3 separate regions of the Homo sapiens genome follow, and regions 2 and 3 are each reported to be linked to region 1. The links are microRNA targets in miRTarBase. Many come from high-throughput screens and were not tested one by one. Region 1 holds a microRNA gene; each other region holds the end of a gene's coding sequence.
What was found. The annotated mature microRNA hsa-miR-513a-5p reads UUCACAGGGAGGUGUCAU and lies in region 1 at 2,259-2,276, shown strand. An mRNA with a match to its seed (bases 2 to 7 or 8) in the 3' UTR can be bound and repressed. Matches are read on the target gene's strand: a 7mer-m8 pairs with bases 2 to 8, a 7mer-A1 pairs with bases 2 to 7 and ends in A, and an 8mer does both.

Region 2: miRTarBase lists RBBP5 as a target of hsa-miR-513a-5p. Seed matches in the 3' UTR shown: 7mer-A1 at 1,359-1,365 and 7mer-A1 at 1,606-1,612.
Region 3: the mRNA of KCTD12 is a reported target of hsa-miR-513a-5p. The part of its 3' UTR that is shown has no 7-base or 8-base seed match.

The regions. Positions count from the first base shown.
Region 1 is chrX:147,224,937-147,228,175 of GRCh38, reverse strand. MIR513A2 (microRNA 513a-2) reads left to right here and starts at 2,224; the gene lies at 2,224-2,350. The region is part of intron 2 of LOC105373347 (periphilin-1); the gene reads right to left.
Region 2 is chr1:205,086,123-205,089,122 of GRCh38, reverse strand. RBBP5 (RB binding protein 5, histone lysine methyltransferase complex subunit) reads left to right here. Exons shown (of 14, transcript NM_005057.4): 14 at 308-2,981. The coding sequence ends at 336. Among named protein-coding and RNA genes, the nearest start is that of TMEM81, 3.2 kb to the right of the region's middle.
Region 3 is chr13:76,882,646-76,885,645 of GRCh38, forward strand. KCTD12 (potassium channel tetramerization domain containing 12) reads right to left here. Exons shown (of 1, transcript NM_138444.4): 1 at 1-3,000. The coding sequence ends at 2,526. Among named protein-coding and RNA genes, the nearest start is that of KCTD12, 2.3 kb to the right of the region's middle. RefSeq lists an enhancer at 2,775-3,000 and a silencer at 2,888-3,000.

The DNA of each region.
Region 1 (3,239 bases):
TGCCCCTCCCCAACTCAAGAACTTGATGGGAAATGTAGGTTACAATGAAATAGAAGAAAACTACTCTACTTTCTTTCCTAATAGTATTACCATTCAACTACATGTGGCTACCCTTCATCGTATCTATTTCCATCCTTCTTGCACTCATAGGATTTCCTTGGGCTTTGAGGCTCAGATACCCTGATATATTTGTTGGTGATTGTGAGTTTTTAGCATGTGTTCTAGCACATTTGTTTGTGTTTATATGGTGATGGGGGGAGTAATACATGTATCTGTGTGCACTTTGGTGTATGTGCCCATACATTTGTGTGTGCACGGGGCATGTAGCATGAGGATTTTGTTATGTTGTTTTTGTTTGAGGTTGGATCTCTGTTTTGTTTTTGTTTTGCTTTTGCTATTCTTATCAGTTTATTTCATGTGTATGGTTTTGCTTTGTTTGTTTGACTTTGGCTCCTTTGGGATTATATGTGTTTGTTTGAATTTGTTTTCAGATTTGCCATGCTCTTGGTCATTGGTGTTTTGATTGGTATTTCTTTACGTACATTGCTTGCAATTTTGTATTTTCTTTTTGTTGTTATTTGGATTTCACTGTGTGATTTCGGTTATATTTTAATTTGCATATTAATTTGCACATATGTTGTTGGAACTTTGCATTGTGTATTGCTAGGGTTCTTTCGATGGCTTATCAATTCTGTTTATGGTTAGTTTTTTTGTATTCATATTTTGTTGTATTCTCATTCTTTTTAATATTGTTTACTTGGGCGTATATGTGTCTGTGTATGTGGTTTCATGGAGCAGTGGGTCTTAGAATCTCCTGCTATGATGTGCCAGGTTGCTGGAAAGACTCCTTTGAAGCTACTGAGGGGTGGGTGATGCAGAGGAAGAGAAGTAGTACCTGTACTGGTGTTTGAAGGAGGGAGTATTGTGTCTGTGTATTTTTTTCCCCTTGAGAACTTTTTGGGGAGATAGCTCAAGGGCCCAAATACTTAAGAGAAAAGCTAAATTGATTGATTGATTGATTGATATATATAAATATTTCTGTAGAATCTAACTTTGGTTGCTTTTCATGGAATTCAAAAAATGCAGTAAAATGCTTGAGATATTTAGAATCATTCTGTTCAGTGAACTATGGCTCCTTGACCGTGACTCAGCACTAACACTGAGCTATGTGCTTCTCTGTCTGTCTTTCAGGGGTTATGTTTAGTAGATGAATGAGAATGGTACATAGAAACACTCGGTCTTGACGATCATGTGGTCTGACTTCTACATGCTATCAAGGGCCAGAGCTAGAAGAATCCAGGTCTTTTAATTTGCCTCAGCTCATGATTATTTGTGTACATCACACACACACACACACACACACACACACACACACACACACACACATATATATATATATAGTTTTTTTTTGTTTTTTTTTTTTGAGAAAGAGTCTAACTAACTCTGTTGCCCAGGCTGGGGTGCAGTGGCATGATCTCGGCTCACTGCAACCTCCACCTCCCGGGTTCAAGTGATTCAGTGGCATGATCTCGGCTCACTGCAACCTCCACCTCCCGGGTTCAAGTGATTCTCCTGCCTCAGCAGCTGCGGTTACAGTTGCCCACCACCACACCCGGCTAATTTTTTGTATTTGTAGTAGAGATGGAATTTCACCACGTTGTCCAGGCTGGTCTCAAAATCCTGACCTCTGATGATCCACCAGCCTCAGCCTACCAGAGTGATGAGATTATATGTGTGACCCACTGCACCTGGCCTGATATTGAGGATTTTTAATGAGACAAGCAAATTAACGCGAAAACTAATGGGATAATCCAGACAAGGATTACACATCTCTGGGGAAGAGATGAAGTGAAATGTTATATTCTGGCTAAGCCTAAAATTTGTGTGTTAATTAGCCATTCGCGGTGGTATGTGCCTTTAATCCCAGCTACTTGGGAGGCTGAGGCAGGAGAAGTGCTTAGACACAGAAGGGGGAGGTTGCAGTGAGCCGAGATCACACCAATGCATGCCAGTCTGGGCGACAGAGCCAGACTTCATCTGAAAACAAAAACAAAAACAAAACAAAAATCTGCATGTTAAAATCTCACTTGGGGCAGGATGAAAAGGGGAGCGCCGGGGGCTACAAGTTGCATTGTCCCTTGGCATAAATCTTGGTGGCCATGCCAAGGCATACACCTATAGGGACTTGAAAAAAAACGGCATGAATAGGGAGCATTTGTTCTTGGATGCCACATTCAGCCATTCAGTGTGCAGTGCCTTTCACAGGGAGGTGTCATTTATGTGAACTAAAATATAAATTTCACCTTTCTGAGAAGGGTAATGTACAGCATGCACTGCATATGTGGTGTCCCTGAGGATGGGGGTGTAGCTGCGAGCATGGTGATGCCTGTTTTGCATCCTGTGCACCCACTCTTCAGTGCTGGGCTACTTCAGGGAACTTTTTGTGCCTTCTAAATGACTATACATAGGAACTGTGGACTCCTGAGAAAACGCATGCACTTCGGTTCCTTAAGAATTTATCTATTTTTGCCAAATGAGGCTTGGCTCAAATAAGAAATACATTGGATAGAGGCCACAGCCATTCTTCGTCAGCTGGAAGGCTATATTCCAGATTCCTAAACTTTTCTCACTTATCAAGAAGTCATCATTTGCAAGGATTCTCCTTTAGCGCTCCCAAAAGACTCTCCTGCCTCTCAGGTCCCTTCATTGCTGATCCACAGTGTCCATTTTCTGTCAAAGACTAAAACATTTTCTCATAGACTTTTAAAATACCTTTCAAAGCCTTCAGTCACCAATTTATGGAGGGTTAAGCGTAGTCCACCCAAGAATATTTCACCCTTTTCCATTATCTTTTTTCCCTGTTTTTTATGTTTGAACAATGGAAGCGTATGATAGAGTTGTTACTCAAGAGATATCTCCTAGTCTTCTCTCCCCATTTTCTGTCTTTTTTTTTTTTGAGATGGAGTCTTTCTTACTCTTTCACACAGGCTGGAGTGCAGTGGCGCCATCTCAGCTCACTGCAACCTCTGTCTCCCGGGTTCAAGCGATTCTTCTGCCTCAGCCTCCCAAGTAGCTGGGATTACAGGCGTGCGCCAACACACCTGGCTAATTTTTGTATTTTTAGTAGAGACCAGGTTTCACCACGTTGGTCAGACTGGTGTCGAACTGCTGACCTCGTGATCCACCCACCTCACCCTCCCAAATTGCTGGGATTACAGGCGTGAACCACCATGCCCGGC
Region 2 (3,000 bases), not on the chromosome of region 1:
ATTTGTTAGCACCTTAGAGCATGGTTAGCAGCTTAGAAAAAATAGAACTCTGATCATTTTGCTTTTCCCCCAACCCTTTGGGACAGTACTGAGGAAAGTATTGGGGTGGGGGGTTTGGATTTGGATTGTTTTTTGTTCAATAAAGAGTAATTGGGAGTTGGAGTTGGTTATGTATTTTCTTAAAAAGGGGAATTTCTTGGTCCACGTGTGCTTGTAATGCATCATCCAGCATTCAGTATTTCTGTTCTTACAAGTAACTGGTCTAAATTGAAGCTAAAAGAAATCTTTTTGTGTCTAATCTCTTTAGCAGGAGGAGCAATCTCAGAACTGTTATGAAGACCTTCGAAGTTCTTCATTCTTTCTCACTTTGCCATCATGTGGCCTCTGGACACTGTGGTCAGTCATTTGAAAATTGACTTTAATTTAAAACAAAGGCCTGTGCCTCCCACCCAGGAGGTGGGAGGGTGAATTTTATGTTTAAATGAAGAAGTGAATTATGGAAGAAGAGTATACGACCTTCCCTTCCCTTTCAAGCATAAGTCCAAATAGACTCTCAGGAATGAAGATTTGTGAAGACATCAGATAGGAATTTTGACTCATTTAAACTTTGATGCTTAGTTATGTTGCTGGAGAAAAGATACTTATGTTTTGCTCATCTAACTTCATTGTACCCAGCGTCATTTTGACATGTCATTTCCTATCTCCCATTTGCCTTCGGTCCTCAATGCATGTCTTTGAGTGACTTCTTATCTGAAATTTTGCTACTGGTATCCTAGGAAAGCTTTTGTTGGATACTCTCATTTTAAACTTCTCCTCTCCCCAGATACCTCCTATATTTCCATATTGTGTGCAAAGGATGGGCAGAAAAGAAAGTGCTTGAAAGATTTCAAATTTTCAGAAAGGGAACAACGAAGGCCCTCTCTTCCTCTCATACCACGTTTTGCTCAAGAAGCTGGGCTGTAACAATTCAGGGTTTTCCCTTGTTTTCCTCTCATTGCATGTTTCCCTCCAATATTGGTTCATTGTCATCAATCATGGTTTTTGAAGATAGCTAGTTTTATCCATCTCCAGCAAAGAATCATCAATAGTTTATATTGCTTTACCTGTGCTGGCTTCCAGAGATGGAAACAAACCCAGGTGTCTCTCAACAAGCTACTTTTTTACTGGGGTGGGGGAATCTATGCAAGGAGTAAAGTAAAACCATCCAGAATCAAAGCAGCAACCACATAGTTCAAATCAAAGATCAAGGTGAATTTTTTGTATCACTGCCTGTGGAAATCTATCCTCATCAGTCATTGCATTTTTCCCTGCCTATACCTGTGCTCCTTTTTCTTACTGTGTTTTCAGTCACTTCCTTTCTGTGAAAGGTTGCTTAGCTTTTTTTTTGACATTTGTTGTTCTTTATAAAAATAACAGATTGGATAGATGTGTACATTTGGTGTTTGAAATTCTCTGAAAATCCCATTAGGAAACCAGGTGTGAAAAGGGCTCAGTAGCTTCTCTGAGTGGCGTTTTTAGCTGACTGGAAGTGCTTAATCTGGATCGTCTTTTTTTTTTTTTTTTTTTTTTCAATATTTTAAAAGGAGAATTTAAATACTGTGCTTACTGTGAAATATATCAGTTGGTGAGCCGGGCGTGGTGGGTCACGCCTGTAATCCCAGCACTTTGGGAGGCCAAGGCGGGTTGATCACCCGAGGTCAGGAGTTCAAGACCAGCCTGGCCAACGTGGTGAAAGCCTGTATCTATTAAAAGACAAAAATTAGCTGGGCGTGGTAGTACATGCCTGTAATCCCAGCTACACTGGAGGCTGAGTCAGGAGAATCACTTGAACGTGGGAGGCAGAGGTTGCAGTGAGTGGAGATCGCACCACTGCCCTCCAGCCTAGGTGACAGAATGAGACTCTATCTCAAAAAAAAAAAAAAAATGATATCAGTTGGTGGATGCTCCTATAGGTAGCCAAACACATTGATTACCTGTTAGATTTTAGGATAGAAATCAAAGTAGAGCACGTCAGCAAGAGCCTCTTTGTCTCACTCCATCATTTAAAACCAGTATATTCAGTAGTTGAAGAAAGAGCTCTCCCTGAGTCAGTTGCAAAACGTCTATATTTTTAGATGCCACTACTTTTTTCTTAAATATTCATTTTGAGACTGTCATGAGTTAGACCAGTGGTTGAGATTAGTAGATGGCTCACTAGACATGTTTTTGTTTTGCAGACATTATATCCATTCCAGTCCTCTGCACTGTACACTGCAGCAGTGTGCAAACTATGGGACTTAGAGGGTTTCTGCCATCTTTCCACGTGTGAAGTAGCTTGGTTTCCTCTGCCTGTGCATTTGGATGTTTGTGCTATGTCCACCTCCTAAACTGGCTACTGAGAAAATCATCTTCAGCCCTGTCAGATTGTCTCTGGCAGTAGCTCCTAATAATTATTTATGTTTTTGGAATTTTTTTTTCAACTTTTAAAAAACCTTCTATCCATTTCAATTTGAATTATTTGATTTGTACAATATATGTATATTCTCTTCTTCCTTTTTGTCATCCCTGCCCTGCCACCCCCAAAATTTTGTTTTTAAAAATATTCTGGGCTGGGCATGGTGGCTCACACCTGTAATCCCAGCACTTGGGGAGGCCGAGGCTGGTGGATCATCTGAGGTCAGGTGTTTGAGACCAGCCTGGTCAACATGGTGAAACCCCGTCTCTACTAAAAATACAAAAATTAGCTGGGCGTGGTGGCGGGCACCTGTAATCCTAGCTACTCGGGAGGCTGAGGCAGGAGAATTGCTTGAATCCAGGAGGCAGAGGTTGCAGTGAGCTGAGATTGCGCCACTGCACTCCAGCCTGGGTGACAGAGCAAGACTCCATCTCAAAAAAAAAAAAAAAAAAAAATCTGTAGTTTTGTACAAGATGAGACTTAGCCTTGGGTACTTCTTGCTGAAGCTTTAATGCTTTGTAAATAAAATCGGATGTTTATTAAAGAACAGGTGTAGATGTTTATTT
Region 3 (3,000 bases), not on the chromosome of region 1:
GGGGTAGAGAAATCTCTGCAACACTGACTTTTGGTCAGTGAATCAGAGTCCTAAATTATTTCAGGCTTCAAACAGATGAATTCTGATGCATTACTTAGTCTGAGACCAAACTCAACATACAAGCAAGCACAACTTCCTAGATTTCTGCTTCCATTTCGCCTAAAATTACAGGCTTTGTATATGAAGTCAATTTTACTTCTCAAAAAATGTTAGTCTAATAAAAGACCTGAAATCTATTTCCCAACTAAAAAAAAATTAGTGGATTAAAAATACAGGTACCTTGACTTTAAGTAGACAGTTAATCAACATATGATTAGTAATACAACTAATACTCAAGAAAAAAAGTATAATACAGCAAACTCAGTTTTACAATTATGTATTTTTTCCTAACCCAATTCCTCGATAAGGATGTAAGAAACTCATCAAAACATGTTGCTTTAGTATATAAACCAGCTGATGCAAATTACTGGGGTAATATAGGAAATTTTATAGCATTAGTAAATGAATTAAAAAACTAAATGATTCATGTAAAATGTTTATATATGGTATATACAGCTTGGATCACATGAGTCTAAGAATAAAACTGTCGATTTGTAACATCTGTATGGACATAGTAAGATACAGTACGAGATTCATTTTTAAAAACAAGGAAAAATAGCACTAATTTAAACACTGAAAACAGCTCTTACAAAATCCTTAAAAACGTACATCAGAGAAAGATGCTGAAAACAAAACAAAATAGGCTTCTCTGTCATCACAGAATATCCAAAGGACACCTCACAGCATGGAGCATGACGAGGTTTATTTCCCTTCACTTATGGTTTACATAGGATATGCATTGGGAATTTATTCCATGTAAGAGTAAAGGCATAAGGCAACCAGGTCTCCTTCTGTTTCTGTTGCATTTACCTATTATTGGACCATTTTATTGCTCAGCTCACTTTTAAGTACTTATTTGCCTTCATTTAAAAATATTCCATTTTACAGCTATCTACAGATAGGCAGCCCTTGGTGCTGAGTTCTCTGCAGCTCGTCATTTGAAAGGATTCCACTTAACTTCAAACAAACTGCATGAAAGTGGCATTTTCAGGTTTTCAGGTTTGCCCAGAAGTCAACGTTTGCTGGGCTTGGAGAAAATAAGGATTTTTAATAAGTGATCTTAGGTCTAAGTAACCAAAATGAAACTTCTTTTGCGCAATAGATTCCAAAATCAGGATTTATAATCAACAAGAAAATAAAAGTTCAAAAACTAAAACCCTACTGGGTAACTCTTTGGTTAGATTATATATAAGCATTAACAACTCTAAGTTTAGGACTCAAAACAGTAAGTTAAGTAAACTGCCAGGTAAGAGTAGGTCTGTTATTAATCTTTATAAAATACTTGGCATGTTTGCATTTACTATATGATATTTTTTAAATGTGCATATACTCAAACAGATGGTACAAACTTCCAACTTTCAAATCATAAATGACTATGTCTGCTTCTCCCTTCCCACCCTTCCTACCCTTTCCTCCCTCCCCACCCCACCCCGCCCACCAAGTCTTACAGCTAAAGGAAGGTCCTACTGACATTCATTGAAAGAATACAGGCTTTCCTAATACCCACGACGTGCACTATGACCCAGCTCCCTACAGTCACTGCCAGGTGACCTCCTACGGCGCTTGGAGACCTGAGCAGCCTTGCACTCTTAGGCGGCAGCGTCCTTTCTCCCTCTTGCCAGTAACTGCTGCCATGTCAACCAGTGGAATCAAGGGCTTCTGGCGAGCAGCAGCTGAAAAGGGCGCCTCTGCAGGCAGGCGGATCACTTTCTATAAGTTTAAGCTACAGGCTGAGACCTTTTATTCTGTACGAGAAAGGATCCTTTACTGTCCCACGCACTAGATTCTTCTACTTTACGTGTAACTTTTCAAAACTTTATTAGTTTAGTTACTGAACTGCCTCCATGGGGTCCTAATTCCAGGCTCAGAATCTTCCATCCAGCCTTCTAAAACTCTACCTTCAAAAGAGGTCAAAAAGACTGTGTAATGACCTTGTAAAACACTAACCCCAGACAGTGGAACCAATCCTGATCTCTTAAACCCCCAGTGAGTCATAAGAGCTTGAGAAGATTTCAAGGAAATCTTCCGCACATTGGACACGGTCCAATCAGGTTCTGAACAATTCAATCATCCCCCGGTCTGTGGCCACACTCCCCCAATAGATCCAAACTGAAGTACCATCTGGGGGAGGGGTGGTTTGAGGCAGGGAGTAGAGAAAGCATGGAGTGGTAGGTGGGGGTGGGGTGGGGGTTCCTCTGGGTTCTCTCGGTTCAGGAGGTCCAAAGAAGACGAAGCAGCCCAGAGGATTTGCGGCTGCAGGTTCTGTAGTGGAGGGAAGGTGGGCGGACAGGTCTCACCCAGCTACTACTGGAGGGGGAGAATGGGAGGGCAGCAGCCAGGGGACAAAGGTGGGACAAGAGGCTCTGTAATCATCTCTCGGGCAGGAGAAGGACTGGGCGCTGGAGTGGCGAGGGGGTCTGGGGAGCTCACTCCCTGCAGAAGACGTACTCGGTGTAGCTGGTCCAGATCTTGTCCTCGCTCTGGTCGGTGCTGCTGGCAAAGGCGCAGGTGCCCGTGGAGCTGCACGCCACCATGTGGAAGCCCGACTCGGACAGCTTGTCGAAGGCCTGCTCCAGGAAGTTGAACTTGAGGTAATAGCGCGAGGTGTAGCGCTCCGGGGGACGGTCGGGGTCCCGGCTTTCGTTCAGGGTGTCCCCAAACACCTCCTTGGCCAGCGACGTCTTTCCGCAAACGGTGATGCGCGCCACTCGCCGGAACTTGGCGTCCGCCTGCGCGTCCCGCCCGATGGTGTAGGAGCCGCGGTAGCCGATGGTGATGTAGCCCGAGCGCCGGCTGCCGTCCAGCGACTGGGACGGCGTGAGCAGCGGGCCCGCCGCGCCCCCGGACGGACTGCGGCTAGCCAGCTCCAGCGTGGGCGACGGCGCCCCGGCAGAGGCGCCC